3 separate regions of the Homo sapiens genome follow, and all the other regions are reported to be linked to region 2. The links are microRNA targets in miRTarBase. Many come from high-throughput screens and were not tested one by one. Region 2 holds a microRNA gene; each other region holds the end of a gene's coding sequence.
What was found. Region 2 holds the annotated microRNA hsa-miR-489-3p (GUGACAUCACAUAUACGGCAGC, at 2,917-2,938, opposite strand). A microRNA usually pairs through its seed, bases 2 to 8, with sites in the 3' UTR of a target mRNA and lowers its output. Matches are read on the target gene's strand: a 7mer-m8 pairs with bases 2 to 8, a 7mer-A1 pairs with bases 2 to 7 and ends in A, and an 8mer does both.

Region 1: miRTarBase lists DRC9 as a target of hsa-miR-489-3p. The part of its 3' UTR that is shown has no 7-base or 8-base seed match.
Region 3: miRTarBase lists PTPN11 as a target of hsa-miR-489-3p. Seed matches in the 3' UTR shown: 7mer-m8 at 1,712-1,718 and 7mer-m8 at 1,262-1,268.

What each region holds. Positions count from the first base shown.
Region 1 is chr3:197,883,559-197,891,765 of GRCh38, forward strand. It overlaps DRC9 (dynein regulatory complex subunit 9), which reads right to left. Exons shown (of 12, transcript NM_032263.5): 11 at 7,888-7,989; 12 at 5,519-6,156. The coding sequence ends at 6,022. It overlaps LRCH3 (leucine rich repeats and calponin homology domain containing 3), which reads left to right. Exons shown (of 21, transcript NM_001365715.1): 21 at 1-4,878. The coding sequence ends at 108. Among named protein-coding and RNA genes, the nearest start is that of RPL35A, 63 kb to the right of the region's middle.
Region 2 is chr7:93,481,031-93,489,237 of GRCh38, forward strand. MIR489 (microRNA 489) reads right to left here and starts at 2,989; the gene lies at 2,906-2,989. It overlaps CALCR (calcitonin receptor), which reads right to left. Exons shown (of 14, transcript NM_001742.4): 3 at 5,901-5,977. The coding sequence starts at 5,951. MIR653 (microRNA 653) reads right to left here and starts at 1,825; the gene lies at 1,730-1,825.
Region 3 is chr12:112,502,655-112,510,861 of GRCh38, reverse strand. It overlaps PTPN11 (protein tyrosine phosphatase non-receptor type 11), which reads right to left. Exons shown (of 16, transcript NM_002834.5): 15 at 6,066-6,167; 16 at 944-5,037. The coding sequence ends at 6,098. Among named protein-coding and RNA genes, the nearest start is that of PTPN11, 88 kb to the right of the region's middle.

The sequences.
Region 1 (8,207 bases), not on the chromosome of region 2:
CTCCACATTTTAGAAGAGAAAGGTTTGAGCCAGGTTGCAGTGACGGTCCAGGCTCTCCTGGAACTTGCCCCACCCAAGCAACAGCAGCACCAGTTATCTGCTGTTTGAGGATCCCCAGGACGGTGGGCACTGGCCTGGCCAAAACAAGGAACAGGACACCGTGATTGCTGCTGCCAGCTGTCTGCTTAAACAAAGCTCTTGTGTGTTCTCAGAAGGGACCGTTCCCATGATTCCTAACAGGAATATTTTGCTTCATTTCTCCATTTTAGGGGAGGTTATTTCCATTTCCATTGAATTTTTTTACGAAGACACCATTGGTTTTCTCAGATGAAACTTCTCTTACTGAAAACCCAGCACCTAACTTGGCTGTGTTTTCCTGGAGAGCAGGCGTGTTTCACGTGCCAGAAAGCACATCTTCTGTGTTAGGCACAAGCATGCTGTGCCATTGTTTTTACCTGGTCTCAAGACAACTGGTCTGCTGGTTTCTAAACTTGGTTGTTCATTAGACTCTCCTGGAGTATTTGTTAAAATACAGATTCACATTCAGTAGAGCTGGGGTAAGGCCTAGGAATCTGCATTTTCAACAACCATTGCACATGTTTTTGTTTTTGTTGGAGAAGGAGTTCTGCTCAGTCGCCCAGGCTAGAGTGCAGTGGCATAATCTCAGCTCACTGCAACCTCCGCCTCCCGGGCTCAAGCGATTCTCCTGCCTCAGCCTCCCGAGTAGCTGGGACAACAGGTGCCCGCCACCATGCCTGGCTAATTTTCTTGTATTTTTAGTAGAGATGGGATTTTGTCATGTTGGCCAGGCTGGTCTCAAACTCCTGACTTCAAGTGATCCACCTGCCTCGGCCTCCCAAAATGCTGGGATTACAGGCGTGAGCCACTGTGCCCGGCCTCCCAGAGTGCTGGGATGACAGGCGTGAGCCCCCGCGCCCGGCCTCCGAGAGTGCTGGGATTACAGGCGTGAGCCACTGTGCCCGGCCTCTGAGGGTGCTGGGATTACAGGCGTGAGCCACTGCGCCCGGCGCCCGGCCCATTGCACGTGTTTTTCATGTAGTGGAACCACTGTTCAAAGCTAGATATTTGTATGTTTGCGGGGGAGGGTAATGGCCCCCTGCATTTTTCACCCACATTTAAAATCAAAAGCTATATTATGAGGAGTTGGACTGTTCTGTCAAAGGCAAAACAAAAATAATATAGAAGGCCTAGGTTTTGCATAGTCTTCTTTTTTTTAAGAGTTGGGGTCTTGCCGTATTGCCCAGGCTGGTCTGAAACTCCTGGGCTCAACTGATCCTCCCGCCTCAGCCTCCCAAAGTGCTGGGATTACTGGAGTGAGCCATCGGGCCTGGCCCAGATTTTGCATAGTAAAACAGTGAAACAGATAGAGTTGTATTTAAGGTCAGTATTCTAGGCCTCCCTTCAACTGCAGTCATACCATCATAGAAGATAGTTCTATGTCATCCTGTTATCTGGACATTATAATAAACAACAAGCCCTCTATACACAGGTTCCAAACCCCGTTATCTAGACATTATCAACAACAAGCCCTCTCTCTATACAGAGTTTCCAAATTCTGAAGCTGATAGCGCACTTGGTCTCACTGAGCCTCCCTCCCCGCCCTCCTGCTGCTCCTCAGACATCTGGGCCTGCAGACACATTGCAGTTACAGCACATACACTTCTAGCTCGGAAAAGCCTAGTTTCTTGTATTTCTTTCAGGTAACTGCCAGTTTCTGTGGCTGAATTTAAGCACTTACAGCATCTTCCTAGCTGGGTGTGGTGGCTCACACCTGTAATCTCAGCACTTTGGGAGGCTGAGGCGGGCAGATCACCTGAAGTTGGGAGTTTGAGACCAGCCTGACCAACATGGAGAAACCCCGTCTCTACTAAAAATACAAAATTAGCTGGGCGTGGTGGTGCATGCCTGTAATCCCAGCTACTCGGGAGGCTGAGGCAGGAGAATTGCTTGAACCCAGGAGGCGGAGGTTGTGGTGAGCCAAGATCGTGCCATTGCACCCCAGCCTGGGCAACAAAAGCGAAATTCCATCTCAAAAAAAGAAAACGCGCCCCATCTCGCTCCACCACAAGCGCCTTTATATACTCAATGATGGGTGGAGGAAAAGGGCCCAAGGGCTCACACCGCACAGGAGCCTTTACTCAAGTTTCAGCTAGTTTTCCTTCCCCTGCATTTTGAACTCCTTTTAGTTGTTGGTGATATCCTTTGGTGTTCACTGCCTTTGTAAAACAAGTAAATAAAGTAAGCGGAAGATATCTCTTTTGTTTCTGTAGTTGTTAACTGTTCTGGATTTTCTTTACAATGCATCCATTTGGGCATAATGTTATCCCTCTTTTTATCAGGTAAATGTAGCATCTAAAAGTAGCTTTGGATCAAATCATGTTGAATACCTGGTCAAAGTAATGTTTTCTTCCTTGTTCTTGCAGAGAAACAAATTCATCAGAACATTACCACTTGACCAGGTTTAAAATTGTATAACAGGCTGGGCATGGTGGCTCATGCCTATAATCCCAGCACTTTGGGAGGCCGAGGCAAGAGGATCACTTGAGCCCAGGAGTTTGAGAGCAGCCTGGGCAACATAGCAAGACCCTGTCTCCCAAAAATTAAAAAAAAAAAAAAAAAACCAGGTGTGGTGGCACCTGCCTGTACTCCCAGCTACTCAGGAGGCTGGGGTGGGAGGATCACTTGAGCCTGGGAGGTTGAGGCTACAGTGAGCCATGGCTGCACCACTGCACTCCAGCCTGGGCAACAGAGTGAGACCCCATCTCTAAAAATAAATTGTACAACATCTAACTTCAATGCCCAATCTTATAGAACAAAAGTAAAATGTCTTTATGTAAGACCCCATTATATTTACAGTTCCCAACAGACCCACCAACTCTTATATACCCTTATATAACTTGTTTAGAATTTAGCCATGTGCATTTTTAAACTGTGTTTGTCAACATTAAGCCTCAGTACAGTCTCCAAATTATATGCCACCAGAAATGAAATTCAGCAAAGGACAGGATTGTTTTTAACATACGCAAGCCAGCCTGGCCAACATGGTGAAACCTTGTCTCTACTAAAAATACAAAAATTAGCTGGGCGTGGTGGTGGGCACCTGTAATCCCAGCTACTTGGGTGGCTGAGGCACAAGAATCGCTTCAACCTGGAAGCCGAAGGTTGCAGTGGGCTGAGATTGTGCCACTGCACTCCAGCCTGGGCAACAGAGCGAGACTCTGTCTCAAAAAAAAAAAAAAAAAAAAACCCACCAAACCAAAAATATACTATGCAAGGAATAATTCTAGAAGACATTACATAATGCAATACTTGCAACATTTGCAACTAATTTTCCCATAGGGATAAATGGAAATTTCAACTTATTTCAAATTTTGCACATATTATGAAACCTTATTAATGTATTTTTATCAAACTAAATCAGATTTGTATTTGAATTGTTAGGAAAAACCATGTGCAGTTTTGGCTGATAATTGAAGGAAAAATATCAAATGCTTTGAATTTTTTTTCTCTTTTTTCAAACCCTCTGCAGAGGTAGGAAGGTATGAATTTCTTTTTTATGTCAAGATGCAAAAACAAATCATGATGCTTTTGTTGGGAGAATTTTTGTATTCAGTATTTTGTATGTACCTTTTTTTTTTTAAATTGGAAAGCACAATTCGGTTTAACATTTAGCTTTGCTTGACTCCAGTGTAAGATGAAGATGACCTTGTCACAGCTCCCCTGACCTGAAGCAGAGCCCTTCCCATCACTGACAGTGTTGGGGGTTGAGAGCCCCCCAGCAGAGCCCTTCCCATCACTGACAGTGTGTCGGCAGCTGAGAGCTCCCCCAGCAGAGCCCTTCCCATCACTGAACAGTGTTGGCGGCTGAGAGCCCCCCAGCAGAGCCCTTCCCATCACTGACAGTGTTGGGGGCTGAGAGCCCCCCAGCAGAGCCCTTCCCATCACTGAACAGTGTTGGCGGCTGAGAGCCCCCCAGCAGAGCCCTTCCCATCACTGACAGTGTTGGGGGCTGAGAGCCCCCCTAGCAGAGCCCTTCCCATCACTGACAGTGTCTGGGGCTGAGAGCCCCCCCTAGCAGAGCCCTTCCCATCACTGACAGTGTTGGGGGCTGAGAGCCCCCCAGCAGAGCCCTTCCCATCACTGACAGTGTCTGGGGCTGAGAGCCCCCCAGCAGAGCCCTTCCCATCACTGACAGTGTCTGGGGCTGAGAGCCCCCCCTAGCAGAGCCCTTCCCATCACTGACAGTGTCGGGTTGAGAGCCACCCCCAGCAGAGCCCTTGCCACGTACAGAGATTTTCTGTCAGCAGTTTCCCAGTATTTCAGACTCATAATCTGTGTTTAGCACTCCAGTGTTCTCTTGTAATAGCCAGGTCTGGAAACGACCCATGGAAAGAGGGGCCTTTGTATTCTGCTAGAACACAGAGCATAGTAGTAGATCACTTTTCTGAAGAGCTTTTTAAAATACAGCTAATCAAGGAGTTTGCGATTTCTCTTACTTTCTACAGCTCAGCAGTGACTAATGATGTGTGACTATGCGAATGAGTTTGATGAATTCGTAAAAACTAAGCGCTTAAATGGTTATAGAAATGAAAACATGGATATTTAGAAGCCTTTCTATATACACAGTGCAGTTGAGATGGTTTACAGCAAATTTCGTTTTATTTCTGAAAATGTTGTAAACATGTAATTAGTGAAAGATTTTGTAAAACATTGTCCTGTATTTTTGTCTGTAAATATATTGCATAAGTTCTAAGTATAAATATGTCAGTATCATGTATGTTATTTTAAATTGCCTGTACGCCACTTTACACATTGACATTCAAATAAAAGCCAACACTTCAGTGGCGTGTAATAAAAGCTGATTGGAGCGTGTTCATACCTGAGGTGTGGTTCCCTTGGCAAAGGTGAATCAAGGAAAGAGCATCTCATTTCCAGAGGGAATGTCAGTGGAAATGGGGGCTTCGGGACAAACTTTTGAGATCAAATTCATTTTTTAAGGAAGTACAGATATCAAGACTGAGCTTTATTTGGAGTTAGATAGAAGGCTTAATTCATGAAATGTATGTGACACATTAGGACAACTTTGCTCTTGGAAACCTTTAGCATCCCAAGGCATTGTTTTGACTCATCAAGGCAAGCATGATCTGGTGGGTGCATTTTTTTTCTAGGAGAAGAGGGAGAGTGACAGCTTTCCTATTTGCCAGGCACAAGTTAGATATTTTCACACACCTGATTTCTTTTCATCTTAACACTCCATAAAGTGGGGATTGGTGGCTCTAGTGTTTCACTTGTCAAAAATATCTCCAAACTAGCCTTCCAGAGAACCTGTGTCCCCATCTTTATAGTTTGTAAAGTTGTATATCCTAACATCCTATTTCTAGCTTGTATTTATAATTTGTATCCCTGTTTCCTAGAAAAGTTGCTGAAGCAGCTTACAACTGGATATGTATTCCATGCCATTTTCACCTGAATAAAAACACCAAAGTGACGATAAATCTAAAAGGCAGGCAGGAACCAACATTTATTAAAACTTTGCTGTGTATATATTATGCTGGACAGCTAATAACATCATATTGTAATTCCTACTGAATACTTTTGCTCATAAGAGTTTTTTCACTACAGACAAATTGGGTAAAATCAAAATCTGACATTACAGGAATTACTCAAGTTTCAATGCGTCACTGTAGCTAAGCCAGTGAACTCCTTTGTTCTGCTGAGAAAGAGCAAGAAGAATGAATCTTCACAGGACTACTAGAAACTTCTTCCCAGCAAGGTATGAGGAAGCCCTAAGTCAATGGTGTAATCCTAAATCAGGGTTTGAAAACCCACCTAACAGGCAGAGTGAAATTAACAGGCAAAGTGAAATCAGGCTTCCCTGGGAAAGTCTCAATAGGAAACAACCTGTAGATGAGTCATCTTTGAGGTACCAGGTGTTTCTTAACTCTCTCCAAGTCCTTCCCACCTCCAGAATACCAGCAGAAAACACAAAAGAGAACTTGGTCACTTCTTCTTGCCTCTCCTCTTATCCTTGCCTTTACCTTTGCCTTTTGAATCCTTGCTATCAACTTTGTCTTTAGGCATCTTGAAACCACCAATTTCTCTCCGTATCATAGTGCCTCGCCACCAGGCCTGGAGCTGGAAGAGAAAAGGGGAGTGAGTACGACGTATGCTATGCCTGACAAGCTGCATTCTTTCCACATAAAGGGACTGTTGAATAAAGTAACTTCTGTCTGACAAACAGTCTCTCTCCAGGACATGGAAGTAGCCAGGCACGTAATCACTTCAGCGATGCTCTCCTGTCGTGCAGGACCCGGAGCTTAAGCCATGGACTCAAGAGTGAAGTTCTCAAGTAAAAATAAAGAAAAGGAATCTGATTTGACCTATTTTTTCTTCACCCGTAGAAATCTGACTTCCTTATACTGCTTTCCTTGAGGAAAGTCCAGGTTCCCCATACTTAACAGCTATTTGAACCAAAAAGAATGTTAGTTACCTGGGCCAAGGGCAAAAGCACTCGGCCAAAAATGCACAGATAATGCCAGGTGCGGTGGCTCATGCCTGTAGTCCCAGCACTTTGGGAGGCTGAGGTGGGCAGATCACTTTGAGCTCAAGGGTTTGAGACCAGCCTGGGCAACATGGCAAGACCCTGTCTCTACAAAAATACAAAAAAGAAAAAAAATTAGTCAGGCCTGGTGGCTTGTGCCTATAGTCCCAGCTGTTTGGGAGGCTGAGGCAGGAGGATCTCTTGAGCCCGGGAAGCAGAGGTTGCAGTGAGCAGAGATTGCGCCACTGCACTCCAGCCTGAGTGACAAAGTGAGATGCTGTCTCAAAAAAAAAAAAAAGAAAAGCACAGATAAGTCTAGATGACTTTCATAGGCTTGCTTGTGCATTTCATATCTTTAGTGATTGCTTAAAAGATCAGTTGTCCTAGTACTTTTAAAAAAGATTTAGTTAGCTTTCTTGAATATCTTGGTTTTAGATAACAGTTGTTCTCAATACGGTCTCTACTGCTTTAAAGTCAGACTAAACCCTAAAGACTGGAAGCAAATCCACTAGTGAAAAGAAAGCAAACGTGCTCTTCAGCTCGTTCTTAACATGTTTGTTGTAAATTCAGGAATACTGACAAGTTTTATGGGGAAACACCATTGAAACTTGATAAATACTTGCTACTTACACATCTGACTCCTTATGGGAAGCCCAACTTTGGGTCTGGATACCTGGTCCAGAATGTGGTATAAAACTTAACTATTTTAGATCACCCTAATATACAACCCAAACTACAGTGTACCCACTAGGGCCTCGACCTTCAGAGAGAAGGGCCAGCTCCAGACAGGTGCCGTCCAGCTTTCAGTTTTTGCTTGCGAGTATTTCACGTGATCTGTGACCTGCCAGTTTCATCATCACTGAGACACACAAGTTCACATAAAACTAAAATATCTCTATTTTTTTCTAACTTGCTGCTTATCCTTCCCACCTAAGCAGCTTGTATCAGAACCCAGCAGATAGTCTGGGCTGATGTATAAGCAGGATTTTAAGAAGTAGAAGGATATTAAAAAGAATCATTCTGTCAAGAGCTGGTTTTGGTTAGACATAGTAATCTGATATTTCGTCTCTTGGCCTAGGTTTTGCTTCCGCTGCTAACCACCTCTTTTTCCCCAGATGAAGAGCTGGGGGCACGTCCTTTTCTATGTTAACTGTCTCCCTGCACCATGGACTGTTGGCAAATTCTAATAATAACAAAAGTCCATGCTTCTTCTCAGATCTGCAGTTCCTTGATATACTGAGATGTGTTTGATAATGAATTGGAAATGCTTTTGTGTTCCTCAGTGTTAAGCCAGCTGTGGCGAGATACTGATTATGGTTCTTTACCTTTATAACGCTCTTTAATTCCAAGAGATCCTGTTTTACCTTCTTCTTGCTCCTCTCCTTTTCTATACGATCTTCAATGATGACCTGTTCATACTCTCTTATCTGCAAAGATAGACATTCATCATTTATTATAGTACTCTCTTGGCTAAGCTGTAGCCCAGCCAGCCCTGCACTTTTAATATAAAATTTCAAAATAAAACATGCTCAATCTAAAGATAAACCAAAGAAAAAAATGTAATAGATTCCTAGATGGTAAATATTCACATATTAACTTTATAATTGTTCCCAAAACTTTTTCAGTTTTAATAATTCAAATTTAA
Region 2 (8,207 bases):
GGTTAGCAACCTCTCACTAGATCTGTTTCCTCAACCTAGGAAACGTAAAATAAGAAGAGCGGTAAGAATAATATTTATCATCTGTCATGTTGTGAGGATGAACAAGACAATAAACACCAAGTGTCAGGGACATGAAAGGTTCAAAACATTTTAGCTAATATTGTTAAAACATGGTATATAACATAATATATATGATAAAGATGTTTTGTAGATTTTTGATCAGTGAAGGTTGTGAAAGGAGAATTTTTAGTAAAATTCATGCAGCAGGCATCAGATGTCCACAGGTTAAAGTTGCGGGGTGGGGTGGGGGCAGCCAGGAAGTTGAAGGCCTGGCTGGACTAGATCAGTCCATGTTGGAACAAGAAAGTACCACTCTTAGCACCTTCTCAATAATAAAAACATGAAGGCATATTTGAATACAAGGAATGGGAAACAGTAATAGTCAAATAGCCCAGATAATTAGCCTAGATATTTGGGGAAAAAAATAGTTCCCAAGAAAGGGAAGATGCTGGGAAAGGAAAACCTTATTAGGGGGAACTTCTCCCCCTTGGTAAGTAAGTCCTATTTTGGGTTAGATTTGGAGATGGTAGCAAGCCATCCTAGTGGAAATATCTTGCAAAGAGAAGAGGGTGAATACTTATCATTATTATAACATTACTGTGATAACTTCAAATGGACACCAATTGTGAATAAGGTTGACACTACTCTTTAAACATTTTGTTGATTTCTAATTTTAATGTCTCTTGAATTTATGTCAGAAGAGAAAGTAATGAACCCATAAAAATGATTATAACTGTGCAAATCCTTTACCAGTGTAGCTGAACACAATTCTTTTGATATATGACACTTTCCCCACTGGTCTTCAGATCAGTCAGCAAATATTGATCAAACTTGATGAGCCCAACATTGTGCCAGATGCTGAGGATACAGTGCTGAATAAAATAAGTGTAGACTGTGCTCTCATAGAGCTTACAGTCTGGCAAGATGGACCAACACTATAAAATATATTTCTGATACTTGAAATTATGAACAATAAAGAATCATCAGTCATAAAATTCTTAGATATTCCTAATGGAATTGGAACACGATTTGCAAAATTTTTAAAAAAGAGTAATTTGAAGGGATTCCATGTTGAGGTTTCTTTTTTTAGTTTATTACTCAACTTTTGTATGAATATGTGTGTTTTAAAAATTCAATTACATATTAGGCAACCATCAAAACAAGAATGGATCATGATGCCTTCACAATAGAGATATTAATTATTGGTTCAACTTATACATTTATTTTAGATTCTTCTTTTGTGGCTCTAAAATCTTCAGTTAATATGAGAATGATCATTTGATGTATTATTAATTTCTGGACCATTTTCTCACCATCTTCAAATCGAATTAGAAGATGGAACATGATGTCATATATAAATCTTATCTGTCACTTGTATTAGATATGCTAAACACTGGGAAGTATTTTGTTTAAATCTGGCTTTCTTCCCAAAAGTAACATTCTGAATTCTCTTTTTATATGGCTGACAACCAACCAAGAGATTTTCTTGCTCTAGTTGGAAATTCATGGAAACCATAGGCAAATAGTATGTCCGAGGATAACAAGTAGAAAACCCTATGCTTGTATTTTCAATTATATTTTTATTTGCTTTAATGCAGTTTTAACATCAGTAACAGTGGAAATACGACAATCTGTATACGAGTAGTTATAATTCATGCTGATGAAAGTAGCTTCCATCTTATCATTCTTGCAATATTGAAACAAACTCCAGTGAACTTGTTTGAAGCTGGTTCAGTAGAGATTGTTTCAACACTGAAGGAATGAAAAATTAGAACCTCTGTTGTCAGATGAGCAGTAATAATCTGCATCAGTTCCTGGTCTGGTTCATATTTGAGCACTGAAGATGGAATTTTCCCAACAGTAGATGAATGTCTCAGTGGCCTTCTTCCTAAAATAACATACCCATTGGGGCATTACGTTTATACATACAGTCATCCCTTGGTATACTCAGGGGATTGGTTGCAGGACCTCCTGTGGATACCAAAATCTGAGGATGCTTAGGTACTTCATATAAAATGGTGTAGTATTTGCATATGTGGATACCAAAATCTGAGGATGCTTAGGTCCTTCATATAAAATGGTGTAGTATTTGCATATAACCTATGTACATCCTCCTGTATTATTTAAATCATCCCCAGATTATTTATACCTAGTACAATGTAAATATGATGTAAATAGTTGTTATACTGTATTATTTAGGAAATAATAAAAAGAAAAATAGTCTGTATGTTTACAATACAATTTTTTCCTGAATATTTTCTATCCAAGATTGGTTCAATCTATGGATGTACAACCCATGGATACAGAGGGCTGACTGTATAGATAGATAGATAGATAGATAGATAGATAGATAGATAGATAGATAGACAGACAGATAGATAGATATAAACATATAAATATATGTATATGTATGATTTTATGTATATTATATATATATAATTACAATCATGGAATTACTACTGCTTAAAAATAACACATATACAAATTTCATAAAGTTTATTAAATGTTAAACTTTTGCTGATAATTTTATACAAATAAGAATTGCTGGGAAGGTGGTATCATTTTCAGCAATACAGAGACAAAATAAAACCAGTAGTGATTGGATGAAACTACCAAACAATGTAAGAGACTTCAAATATCCTACTTATTATAAGTGTTATGTCTATACTACTTATTTCAGGGGGTTAAATAAAAATATGATTATATGTTCACATTCAGATAGAAATGAGATATTAAGGGCATATTGTTTTTCTGAATAAACATCAGTTTTCAAAGCTTTGCATATAAACCATCTTACATGATTTTTCAACATACAAACAAACAAAACTCTTAATTGTTGTCCCATGTAGCAGTTTAGCTGCCGTATATGTGATGTCACTCCTAAAGGTTCAAGTAAATGGCGTCACACATACGACCACCAAGCTGCCACCAACAGCAGTAGTCAGCAGCCCAAACATCATCAGTTTTTTTCAGTCGACAAATACTTTGAGTGCCTCTCACATGTCAGGCACTCTTCTAGGTTCTGGAAATTCAGCAGTGAACCAAACTGGCAAGCCACCTGCTCTCATAGAGCTTACATTCTTGATTTTATCCACACTAATCATGGAATCCACAGGAAAGGAATCTGATTTGAAATGGTCATATGCTTATGCAATTCCTACTGTGATGTAGGACAGTCAGTTTGCTTTTGGGTTACAGGCAGTTTCTAGAAGTACAGAGACAGTTACAGAGCTGTTCTTCATGGAACTTTGAGAAATGGTCCATCTCTGCAATAGTTCAAGCCCACTGAGTGTATGGACCCAAGCTGCTGTGCTGAAGGGAGAGCTTCCTATTGATTGCCACATGCAAAACTACTCTAAAAAGTATGTAAACCTAGAATCCACAAACTGATGCAACCAATGAGATTTTCATGTCACCATCCTTAATGTTGATAATGTATATAATTATTTTTGCTTTTCAGTTACTTACACATTTCAAAATAAGAAAGGACAAAGCACACTGTTGTAAAAAGTGTTAGCCCTGGTTTTCCCAGGTAAGATCAGATGCCTGGCTGGTGTACTGTGTAATTCTACTTACATTATATAAACAACGAAACTGCATATATCATAAATTCAAAGCAAATAGGTGAACATAGATAAGTAAACAAGTAACAATAACACCTGCTCTGAAGAACCTAATTTTTATGTCTTTGTTATTACCATTGGCTTTGTTGTCATCAGCATCGTCACTGGCATCTTTTTCTGAGAGCTCACTGTATACCAACTGCTGCTCTAAGCTTACTGTATACCTCGCAGGAGGGAGAGGAATTGAGTGGGTGGTTATGGTTAATGGAAAGAGGCTAATTGAAGGTGGTGACCCAAACTGAGACTTTAAAACCTATATGGAAATCGAGTTGATAGAGTTCAATAGTTAGTGTATTTTCACAACAATCTATTGTCTAAAAAGTAATATTTCGGATTAATTAGGAACATTGTCATTAAAATTTTTTTTCTCTGAGAAGTGTCAGTGTGAACATAATAAACGTTTTGAAGAAAATGGACATATCAAATTTTGTTTTATGGACAAATCCTCCAAATCAAATATATAATCCAAATACAGAGAGAGAAGCAAATTTCTCTCTGTCACAGCAAAGAGAGCACAAACCCATTTAAGTGCCCTGTTCAGTTATGCTTGCTGGTCAAGAGGTGCCCACAAGCCATAAAATGTTTCTGTCCATGGCTCATGCAAAGATGTGCATTTTTTTCAATATTTAAATTATAGACTACATTAGTAAAAGTTTTGAATAAAAATGACCTACGTTGCTTTTTGAACACACTACAAATTTTCTAAAGCCTTTGTAATAAAAAAGGTAATTAGATAATCTTCAAACAATTTTGTTAGTATTTAGTTCTTTCTTTAGTTTTTCTTCTGTCATGTTCAATATAATTATTTATGAAGCATGATTATTCAAAAATATTCACATATACCAGATCACTTAGGATTTCATTTGAGCTATGAAAAATAACAATATCAATAATATATAGCAATATTTTTACATCCATAGAAGACCACATAAGGCCTGGGTATTTACTGGCAAATTAAAATATTCTATTAGTTTCCATAGTAGTCTTGTTTAGTGTTTTTATTATATTTCCAGTGACATAAAGAAACCTGCATTTCCAAATACTAATTACTTTTAGAAAATTTTACTGTAATTTATCTAAAGAAATATTTAATAGGATAAAATGATAAGACAAACTGACAATAAAATAAGTTATACTCATTATCCAAATAGGTGCAAAAGGGTTGCATTAATAGTCATTCCCATACACCATTTATTTGATGTACAATATTACAAAATAAAAATTGCCTTACAAATTAAATTAACATTTATGAAATACTAGCAATATTTTTTTCTTGAATAATATAAAGACAAACAGTTTAGACAGACTTGTAGGCCTATAACTACACATTAATAAACAATGGAAATCCTCGAACCCTATGCAAGCTTTGTGTGGGTCAGTATGACAGTATGAGATATTGAGTGATCTTTGCTGCCAACTGTAATTTATTAGCAAATGTTACTCTGATGTGACAGAAAGGATAAGAAGCAAGGCAGCTCCACATTGATTTACGTAAAATTTACTCATCTCCCATTCATGTGCTATTGAAGCTGATGTGATGGTAGGTTAACAATGTTGACACAAATAATAGGCATTGATAGTGTTCTCTAAGATGATTATATTTCCGATTACTTGCTAAATCTTTTAGGAATAAAACAATATAGAATTACACAAACTGAACATAATTTAAAAGATTGGAGAAAGAGTTATAGAATAATAGTGGTATATAAAGACTTGAAGTTTCCATAGTCAGTTTTTGATGAAAAATACATTTGAAATCAATAGCCAGACTGAAAGAGTTCAGAAGTTTTAAAAGAATTGAACAGCCCAGATGTTTTAAAAGGATTGAACAGCCCAGAAACTATCATTCAAATCATAGTTTTGAACTAAGATTCAAAACATAGTTTTTTCAACATGAAAACATTTTACCTGAGAATATTATTTACCAACTATGTTAATTTCTAAGATAATATGGAGATGTCTAAAATTAATGCTAAAGTTTTGTAAACAAAACTCAAATTTCTGGGTAGACCACAAACACTAATTTAAATTAGAGACAGTTCAGAGGAGAGATTTGTTAACAAAATATTAAGCAAAATAATGGCTTTGAGGAACTTAGTTTCGGCTTCTGGAGACCAATGCCTACCCTTGCAAATACTAATTAAATCACACTCAAAACATTCCTCCTTATTCAGCATTCTTCATTAGCATGGCTTTGAATACTTTTGTTTTACTTACATTTAGAAGAAGAAACAGTGCCAAGCACCGGCTTGTAAATGTGAACCTCATTTTTGATTTTTGAAGATCTCTTTGTCCTAGAAAAATATAAAAGCAACAAAGACTAAAATTAATATATCTCTAATATTGGCTATGGCATTTCATTTTCATTTTTTCTATTTGACTTAAAGAGGATCAACATCCCAAGACACCCTAAAAAACACACGTAAGAAAAAACAGTATGCTTGTGATGCAAATGCAGTGAAGATTCCATTGCTTTTCCTGTCAACTAGATTGTTATACCTGAGGCCCTCCTATTAAGAAATTCTGGCACTACCTTTGCATATTAGGACAGAAATAAAGACATTCCAAGAGAGCAAGAGCAACCCATGTCAGCTTCAGTTAACATGTGTCATTGATAGAGCTGCTGAAAATTGCAATGAAGATGTCCACCAAGAAGTCACCTCACTGGACATGAACAAATAAAATCTGTAATTTGTGAAAGATTAATCATCATGCCCTCTAGGTAGTCTAAGGCCAACTCTAAAAGTAGCCTTATTTAAAGCTTTGAGTAATTTTCTTTCCTATAAATGTTTCTTTAAGCTTCAAGTTGCTAGTAAGAACAAATTTCTTCCATAGCAATGATTGAGCATGTCATTTAACAGCTCACCATTCATACTGAAGAGCATAATCATCCAAACAGGCTGCTTAGTCACAAATATCAAATGGTTTTTCATGGCTCTGCAGATAATTTTACACAAGAAAACTTAACAAAGGGTTAAACAGTTGAAAAATACATATATTTCTTTTCATCAGTGGGAGTTGTGTGAAACCTACATTCCAACTAGGGGTGAGTGGTTATGACTGTATCTTAACTGGTAAGTTCCTGTTGCACTATATCTACTGTATTACCCATAGAATTTACCTATCCTTTATCCAGGAGAACTTCCCCAACATAGCAAGACTGGCCAACATGCAAATTCAGGAAATACAGAGAACACCACTAAGATATTTCATGAGAAGATCAACCCCAAGACACATAATCATCAGATTCTCCAAGGTTGAAATGAATGAAAAAATATTAAGGGCAGCCAGAGAGAAAGGCAAAGTAACCTACAAAGCAAAGCCCTTCAGACTAACAGAAGACCTCTCAACAGAAACTCTACAAGCTAGAAGAGATTGGAGGCCAATATTCAACATTCTTAAAGAAAAGAATTTTCAACCCAGAATTTAATATTCAGCCAAACTAAGCTTCATAAGCGAAGAAGAAATAAAATCATTTCTGGGCAAGCAAATGCTGAGAGATTTTGTTACCATTTGGTCTGCCTTGCAAGAGCTCCTGAAAGAAGCACTAAATATGGAAAGGAAAAACCAGTACCAGCCACTGCAAAAACACACCAAAATATAAAACCAATGGCACTATGTAGAAACTGCATCAACTGTTGTGCAAAATAACCAGATAGCATCATGATGATGGATCAAATTCACACATAAGAATGCTAACCTTAAATGTAAATGGGCTAAATGCCCCAATTAAAAGACACAGACTGGCAAATTGAATAAAAAGTCAGGACCCATTGATGTGCTATATTCAGGAGATCCATTTCATGTGCAAAGACACACATAGGTTCAAAACAAAGGGATGGAGGAAAATTTACCAAGCAAATGGAAAGAAAAAAAAAAAAAAAAAAAGCATGGGTTGCAATCCTAGTCTCTGACAAAACAGACTTTAAACCAACAAGATAAAAAAAAAGACAAAGAAGGCCTTGCATGATGGTAAAGGGAACAGTTCAACAAGAGCTAACTACTCTAAATATATATGCACCCTATACAGGAGCACCCAGATTCATAAAATAAGTTCTTAGAGACTTACAAAGATACTCAGACTCCCACACAATAATAGTGGGAGACTTTAACATTCTACTACCAATATTAGAGAGATCAATGAGACAGAAAATTAGCAAGGATATTCAGGGCTTGAACTCAGCTCTGTATCAAGTGGACCTAATAGACATCTACAGAACTCTCCAACCCAAATCAACAGAATATACATTCTTCTCAGTACCACATGGAACTTATTCTAAAATCGACCACATAATTGGAAGTAAAACATTCCTCAGCAAAAGCAAAAGAACTAAAATCATAACAAACAGTCTCTCAGACCACAATGCAATCAAATTAGAACTCAGGACTAAAAAACACATTCAAAACCACACAATTACATGGAAACTGAACAACCTGCTCCCAAGTGACTCCTGGGTAAATAATGAAATTCAGGCAGAAATCAAGAAGTTCTTGGAAACCAATGAGAACAAAGAGACAATGTAC
Region 3 (8,207 bases), not on the chromosome of region 2:
GGCCTCAAGTGATCCGCCCGTCTTGGCTTCCCAAAGTGCTGGGATTACAGGCATGAGTCACTGTGCCTGGCCCATGCTCTGTATTTCTGAATGGACAGGTGACAGGACTAACAAACTAAACCAGCTAGATTTGATTAGATGCATTAAACAATTCAAATGAGACTGAGAGGGGGGTCATAGTATTTTACAGTGTAAATAAGTAATCCAAATCATTCCTTATATTTCTAATAAAGAATAACCACCTGTTTTGCTATCTATAAAATGGTTTCTTTCTGCCCATGTCAGTGCACACTGTTGTCAGAACAAAGTGGCCCTGTTGGTATGTGACCTAAACCTACTCTAAAGGAAGAGCTGATGTCCCATAGCAGATAATTTACTCCTCCTCCAAGCCTCCTTACCATCCCTTTACTTCTTATTCCCACCTAATACTATTTACATTCAGTTCTGTGTGTTTTCTAACAATTTCCTCTGTGTGTGTGTGTGTGTGTGTGTGTGTGTATGTGTGTGTGCGCGCGCGTGCGCGCACATATATATTTTTGGGGGGCATGCAGTGAGAGTAGGTGAGAAAGGGTCTCACTATGTTACCCAGACTGGTCTAAAACTCCTGGGCTCCTGGGTTCAAGGAATCCTCCCGTCTCAGCCTCCAAGTAGCTGAGATTACAGGGGCGCGCCACCATGCCCAGCATTTCTTCTATAGTTTACACAGACTATACTTTTTACTCTTGAGTTACTCATATGTTCTCCCAGATAGAACTCCCTATCTCCTAAAGCTATTTCTACAGGAAACACTCAATGAATTCTTCAGGAACTCATGCCTTTATTCTATGTTCCAAGTCACTTCTAGATAAGAGCTGCTAAATGTCAGTATTTTGCCAGTGTGAGAGGTGGAGTGACCAATAATCCCATTTTTTTCCTGGACATTTCTGATGAAGCAAACGACAAATGCCATCATATAAGAAAATGGTTTTATTCCTAATTTTTAGTTCCCATACAGTTTACAAATACACTTTTACTCTGATAATACAGCTTTGCAACTAGCAAAGCAGTTGCGCTAACACCCATAAATATAGGTGGGGAGACAATTAACATCCACTAATGTTTCTCTACATAAACTATTCTTTTAATGTCATTTTTTTAAGAACAGTTGCAAATAGACTACATAATATACGTGGGCAAAAAGGCAATTAAGTGAATCTCTTGAAACACTAAATGTATAATAAACAGCATATTATCAACATTTACATGATTCACATCAAAATGATGACATCCTAAAACGTATTCCTTTTAAAGGATAGATTTATCAATAAAATATTACATATCTTTTAATACTCTGGTACAATACTTCATATACTGCAGGAAAATTAATTGTAGGTCTAGTCATCAGCTTAATCAGGGATCCTTTTCCCATTAGCTTTTATTAATAAAAGAATCACAATTAGGTCATAAATAAACAGGCAAATTATTAATTACATGATTTGAGGCTTAGGATGAAAACTTGTCAAAATTAGTTTGATATACAGCAAAGTTATACAACACACTAAAACCAACTGTTCAATAGTTTTTGCCTTGTGTGAACTGCCCATAGTGAAAAAGGAACAAATTTTTAGTGATGAAAGATACAATAAACTATATTTTGGAACTTTTCAAGAGGAAGAAGGAAAAAAGATTTCAACAAAATTAAGGGCAAATACAGATCCTAACAAAGGCATCCTGACATCAGGGAGGCCATGTGCTTGCTATGTGTGAAAGTTGATCCCCCAACAACATACAGAAAACAAAAGCTGCACTGGCTTTGTAGTTATGTCTATAGTCTAAGTTTCCCTTATGGATACTAAGCTACAACAAAACACTTGACAATTGCAAACCTTTCCACATCCCCCTGAATTAAAAATAACTCAAGATGTTATTAGTTCTTAAAATCCCCAATAAAATAACCTCTAAAAATAATCTTGACCATTTTCCTGGCTGTTTCCCCGAAGCAACTTGGCTCTTTAAAGAATGCACACACACCAAGAAAGTCCTACCCGTGTCTCCTCATCCCCATTTAGCCACATTTGAAAAGACCTTGGTTTCAGTGGGAGAGATGACCATAAGTTTCAGAAGGGCCACACACTGGACATGAAGCGCCTTTTAGTTTTTTTTAAAAAAAGTTATTAAGACTGTGAAATTTGGCTTTTTTTTTAAACTCCAATACCTAATGTGCCAGATAATTCTTTCACCCCAAAATATAAAATCCTATGCTTATAATTTTAAAATCCTCAGTGAGCTATGGAATATTGTGCATATTTAATACCCACCAGCAACCTAGAAGTAGATGGCATCCATGTGTCTGTCACACCGACTTTCCAAACAACCTCATTCACCCATTACTGACTGCTCTGGCCCTGGGCGCTCTGACTTCCTCAGAAACCACCTCTTTGGAACTTTCCTTTCCACAACTTTTTTTTTAAAACTTCACCTCGAGCTTTCTCCATCATCCCAGCCTCTCTGCCTGATTCCATCTCATGTAAAGTAAACTCGTCTGAGAACCTGCGATCACCTTTTACCAAGCACATGATAAGCCGTAGCAACCTAGGGACTATGATAACTCTGGCCTTGGCCTAAGTTTACATAAGAACATGATAGTTTGCTGACCTCGTGGAGGGAAATCTAAATGAAATCAATATCTTATAACAAAACTAGCCAAGATCAGGTATTTCCATTCTGAGTATAAAAGCAACTGATCTTAAGCAACAGGCAGAGATGTTAATGCAGAAGATATATTTGTACAATCAAACTCTTGTGTGCTGGTGAAAGACTTTACCCCCAAAGTCAAGTCAAGTCAAGACAAAACCAAAGCAAAATGGAGAATGAGTCGATGTAACAATGCGATAAAAAGAACAGCATTCAAGCTTCTTGCTGCAAATACTGAACTGGAATCTTTTTCTTTACAAGTTTGACTAGAAGACAGCAGTGACACTTCCCTAATAAGGGAATACCTTCAGGCCACACCTGTGTTCTGAAGCAATTCAAAGTTCAAGGAATATTGGGGGGTGGAGGTGGGGGCTGATATACATTTTGTCAGTGAGAATGGCAGCCAAACTACCCCAAAGTCTCAAGGGACTGAGAGACCTCAGAAAGGAACTACCACCAGGGCTGGATCTAGGCCTTCCTTTCAGAAGCCAAAGTCAGAAGAATCCAAGGAGGCCACAACTTCATGGCAAAGATGCCATAGCATTATTACCATCACAAAAGTCAACCAATGATATTTTCATTGAAATATCCGCACTGGATGATTCAACATATGAGGCAAAGAGGGATGTCTTTGGAGAAGGCACTTAATGTAGAACATTAGCAAATCTTACTGGTTGGCTACAACAAAAATGAGCTCATTCAACCTGGCTGGAGGCCTGTTAGGGCTGTTCCTTCTCACTGTGGCCTGACTAAAACCCAGTGGCATTAAGAAAGAGTCACGTTTCCCAAGTCTGGGGATGCCCCAGTGGGGTGGTGCTGCTCTCAAAAGCCCTGTGTCCCTAAACACATCCATCCTCACAAGATCAGTTTCCCCAAGTGCTGGTTCCAAAAATAGGCTCAGGGCTAGCAGAAATCATTCAGGAAGCTTCTTGAAGGCCCTCTCTTTATTTCTTAGTCTGACTTTCAGCTTGTCCCAGCTACTGTAAGCAGCTTCGGCTTCCCAAGGTCACTAGCAACTTCTGCTTTTGCTAATATCCTTGGTTTTCCATGGCACTGGTTGTGACCGTCTGTTAGACTAGTGGCCCCCCACTTAACTGCACCTCTACTTCACACCCTTTTCTTGAATCTGAGCTGGGCTTGTGACTTGTTTAGTAAGTAGAGGGCATACCCCAGCTTTCTTCTGATTAGAAAAAACCATCATCATCATCATCATCATCATCATCATCATCATCATCATCATCAATAGAGGGAAGTAGAAGGGACACTGTGACAATTCTGGACTTAAGTTTTCAGAAGGCCTGGCCATTTCTGCTTTTGAGCTCTTGGGAGCTCTGAGCTGCATGTGAGAGGTCTAGCTACCCTGCCAGCCAGGCCACTGAAAGAGACTACACGAAGAAGGAGAGACTCAGGACTGCAGGCAGAGAGAGAAGCCCAGCCATCCCAGTCTCTCCGCCGACCTGCTGACCACATGAGTGGCCACCTGCAGGCTGGCAGAAGAACAGCCCAGCTGAGCCCAGCTCAGATTGACTAACAGTTGGGGGCAGGTTTTTTTAAGCCACTAAAGTTTTGGGATAAGTTTGTCAGCAACATTTGGCGACCAAAAACACTGGTCATTCATAGACGCCTTTTTTCTAAGTACAAGACAATTATTCAAATGCAAAGAAAATATGGCAAACGTTTTCCCACCACAAACTTCTCAGTCAACAGCCGAACTATAATTGGTCAACGGCTGGAAAAAAGAAAAAAAAAAAAGCCACACCTCTTACCTTAATTCATAAATATCCATGATTCTTTTTCTATGACTCTTTAATGCCAGTGCAAAGGTCAACTTCTGACAGTCTCAGGCACTGGCTTAATTCTCATTTGGCCAAAAATAGAAGCCATCAAAATGAATTATCCACTACTGGATACATGATGGTAAATGAGATTGTTCTCACTTTTCTAGGTCGTTGTTACTTAATTTTCCCAAATCATTTCTTCTCATCATCCCCAACAATGAGGAAAAAAAAAATTAAACTGGTTAAGGGTATAAAAATAAAAATAAAAAAGCCTATTACTAGAATTTGAATCCCCATAATCTGCAAAATACAGCGCACAATTTAACTGCTTCCTCAATTTCAAACAAATTCTATAAAATATAATGTTGTCTACATTGTAGAGATGATTTCTTCTTATCTGAGGAAATGAGTAATTGGGAAGCAGGTATTGTTGAGTTAAAATACAGTGGTCTTTAAATGGTTTCAAATTTTGCTTATCAAAAGGTAGTCAACCACATTGCAAGCCTTCCAAATCCAAATTCTGTCTTCACATAAACTTTCTTGCGTCTGTTCTTGATCTTTTTAGGGAGAGGGTGAAAGTCCACATCTGGGGAAGAAATAAGTTAAGAGTTTTTAAGGAACATATATCTAAAAGCTTAACAAAGCATTAGGTGATTTTAAGGTAGACTTAGAGCTTTTAACTACACTACCCATTGAAGTGGAATTTCGACATGAAATACTGACACTGAGTTTTTTTTTTTTTTTTTTTTTTTTTGAGATGGAGTTTCACTCTTGTGGCCCAGGTGGAGTGCAATGGCGCGATCTTGGCACACTGCAACCGCTGCCTCTCCTGCCTCAGCCTCCTGAGTAGCTGGGATTATAGGCATGCACCACCATGCTCAGCTAATTTTCTATTTTTAGTAGAGACGGGTTGGTCTCTACTATTTTAGTTGGTCAGGCTGGTCTCGAACTCCTGACCTCAGGTGATCCGCCCACCTCAGCCTCCCAAAGTGCTGGGATTACAGGTATGAGCCACCATGCCCAGATAAGTTTCTAATTTATCATGAAAACATACATCATATACTTGGGTCACACTTAAAAAACGTAATTGATGGGGAGGCAACATATGGGAGAGATGAATTTCCAGCAGCAGAGCTGGAAGGGATGTCGGTGACCCAGTCGGCAGCCAAGTGGTCTAGCACCCCATGCCACACAGTTGGTCAGAGACTGACTGAAATGAGAACTCAGGCTTCCTGACTCCCAACCACCCAGTGCTGAGTCCCGATGCTTCCCAGATCCCTACAGATCATCCCCCAGCACAGCCTGGGCTAACCAACTCTAATAAAAATTGCAGGAACAGTGATACCTGCACTCTACCACCAGTATCAGCCATTTCTCTGGAATAAGTGCTAGCCTTGCCTCATGCAGAATTAATTCTGTGTTTGATTTTAATGTTTAATGAACTCTAAACTAAAACCATCTTGGAAAAAGAAGTACAGGGAGAGGAAAAAGGAGCCTGGTTTGTAAAACTCAATTATGGTACACTTTGCTAAAACATTCCCAAATTGCTTGCCTGCTTAAAAATACTGCCAATTATATAAACAATTAACCAATAGAGCACTTGCATTTAAATACCTATTTCTGTGCTGAAGTTTTGGCAGGTTTTCTCATCTGAAACTTTTCTGCTGTTGCATCAGGCCCACGTTTTCATAGACTCTAGCACTGTCTTCTCTCATTCTGGAGAGAAAAGAAAAAGAAAGACATTTACAAAAATGTAGACCACGCTGTTTAAGCTTACATGATATCTATAAAACACATACTACATTCTTTGGGCACCAGATATGGTACAGACACAGTTCCTGTGCCTAGGACCTGACATTCCCAGGGAGAGAAGAGATAGCCATACAGCAATATAATTACAGAGGCAGAAGTGAAATAACGCTGGGCATGGTGGCTCACGCCTGTAATCCCAGAACTTTGGGAGGCCCAGGTGGGTGGATCACGAGGTCAGGAGTTTGAGACCAGCCTGGCCAATATGGTGAACCCCGTCTCTACTAAAAATACAAAAATTATCCGGGTGTCATGGCACATGCCTGTAGTCCCAGCTGCTTGAGAGGCTGAGGCAGAAGAATCTCTTGAACTCGGGAGATGGAGGTTGCAGTGAGCAGAGATCGTGCCACTGCACTCCAGCCTGGGCGACAGAGCGAGACTCCATCTCAAAAAAACAACAGAAGTGCAATAAAAGCCTCAAGTCCTGGTGCTCCCTGGGGTCTGGCAGAAAGCAGGTTGTTTTAAGGAGGCCTGTAGGATGAGGCATTTGGATCGCACTGTGAAGAAAGGTTGGAAATGCACACATAGAATGAAATCCTATTAATTTCCAGTAGAGGGATCTGAACAGGCAAAAGCTCCAAGAAGGGAAAATACAGGAGCAGGCAGGCAGTGATGAGAGATCTATTTAGCCCCAGCTCAGGTTATGTGAAGGGCAATGGGTGGTTTAGGGCCTAGGACAGAGGGCCAAAGCATCAAGATCCCAGACTTCTTTCTGCTGAGCAGGGAGATGACATCAGAGCAGTCCAGGAGAGTAAGGAACCCAGCAGCTGTGGGTGCCAGGCTGAGAGGGGCTCCAGGACCAGTGTATCCTGGATCTGAACCCTACAAGGGAGACGACGGGAATGAAAGGCAGACAGGCTGTCTGTCACAGGCATGCCACTGGTACTGAGGGAATCATGACAGCTGACTCAGTCATGCCAACAGGAGGGACGAGCTGTCTGGCAAGGACTCAGAACCCTGGCATTCCAGTTCCATTGCAAATTATTGCAGAGAGCAATTTAAAATATCAATTTTCCCAGGCAGTCCACTGGGAAAGAAAAGAAAAAAGATAGAAAGAAGTGGCAACTTGGACGAGAAAATACCTCTGCTGTATAATTTCATTTCAATGTTAAATAGAAAGCAAATGTTAATACAAACCTCATATATGCCACCTAAAACATTTATATAGAATATTAAAATCTGCAGGGGTTTAAAAATCCATGTCGAAAGCAAACAGAGAGAAGATTCTTAGGGAAAAATAAAAGGTAAATGTTATACTAGCAAGTGACTTTCGAATATATAGAAAAATAATAACTTACAATTGCTATTCATATCCTCAATTTGACAAATGCTTTCCTACCGTGTTTTCAACAAGGAGTCGGGAAGGATTTCTGGGAAGGGCTTGAGAGTCAGTATTTTAGGCTCTATATGCCATACATGGTCTCTGTCGCATATTATTCTTCGGGCTTTGTTTTGTTATTGGGTCTTTGTTTTGTGTTCTTTTGTTTTACAACCCTTTAAAACCATTAACAGGCCATACAGTAACAGGCCATGGCCCACATCTGGCCTTGTGAGCTGTAGTTTGCTGACTCCTGGTTTAAACACCCAAAGTAGATTTCTGTTGACTGGTGGCAAATGAGCAGAACATGGCTGGGCTGACACATTAGTGGTCAATTTATTTACTTTGATTTTGCAAAGAGCCTTAACACATCATTAAGACATATGACCTTCCTTTGTTACAATCCCCAGCCCATCAAAAGAAAAATTAGATTCTTCTTGGAGAACCACCACTTGATATACTTAAAATCCCATATAATCCTAGCTAGCATAGCAGTCAGCCTTCAGTTTAGGAATTTATTTTATTTTATTTTATTTTTAGACAGAGGCTCACTCTATCGCCCAGGCTGGAGTGCAGTGGCATGATCTCGGCTCACTGCAACATCCGTTTCCTGGGTTCAAGCGATTCTC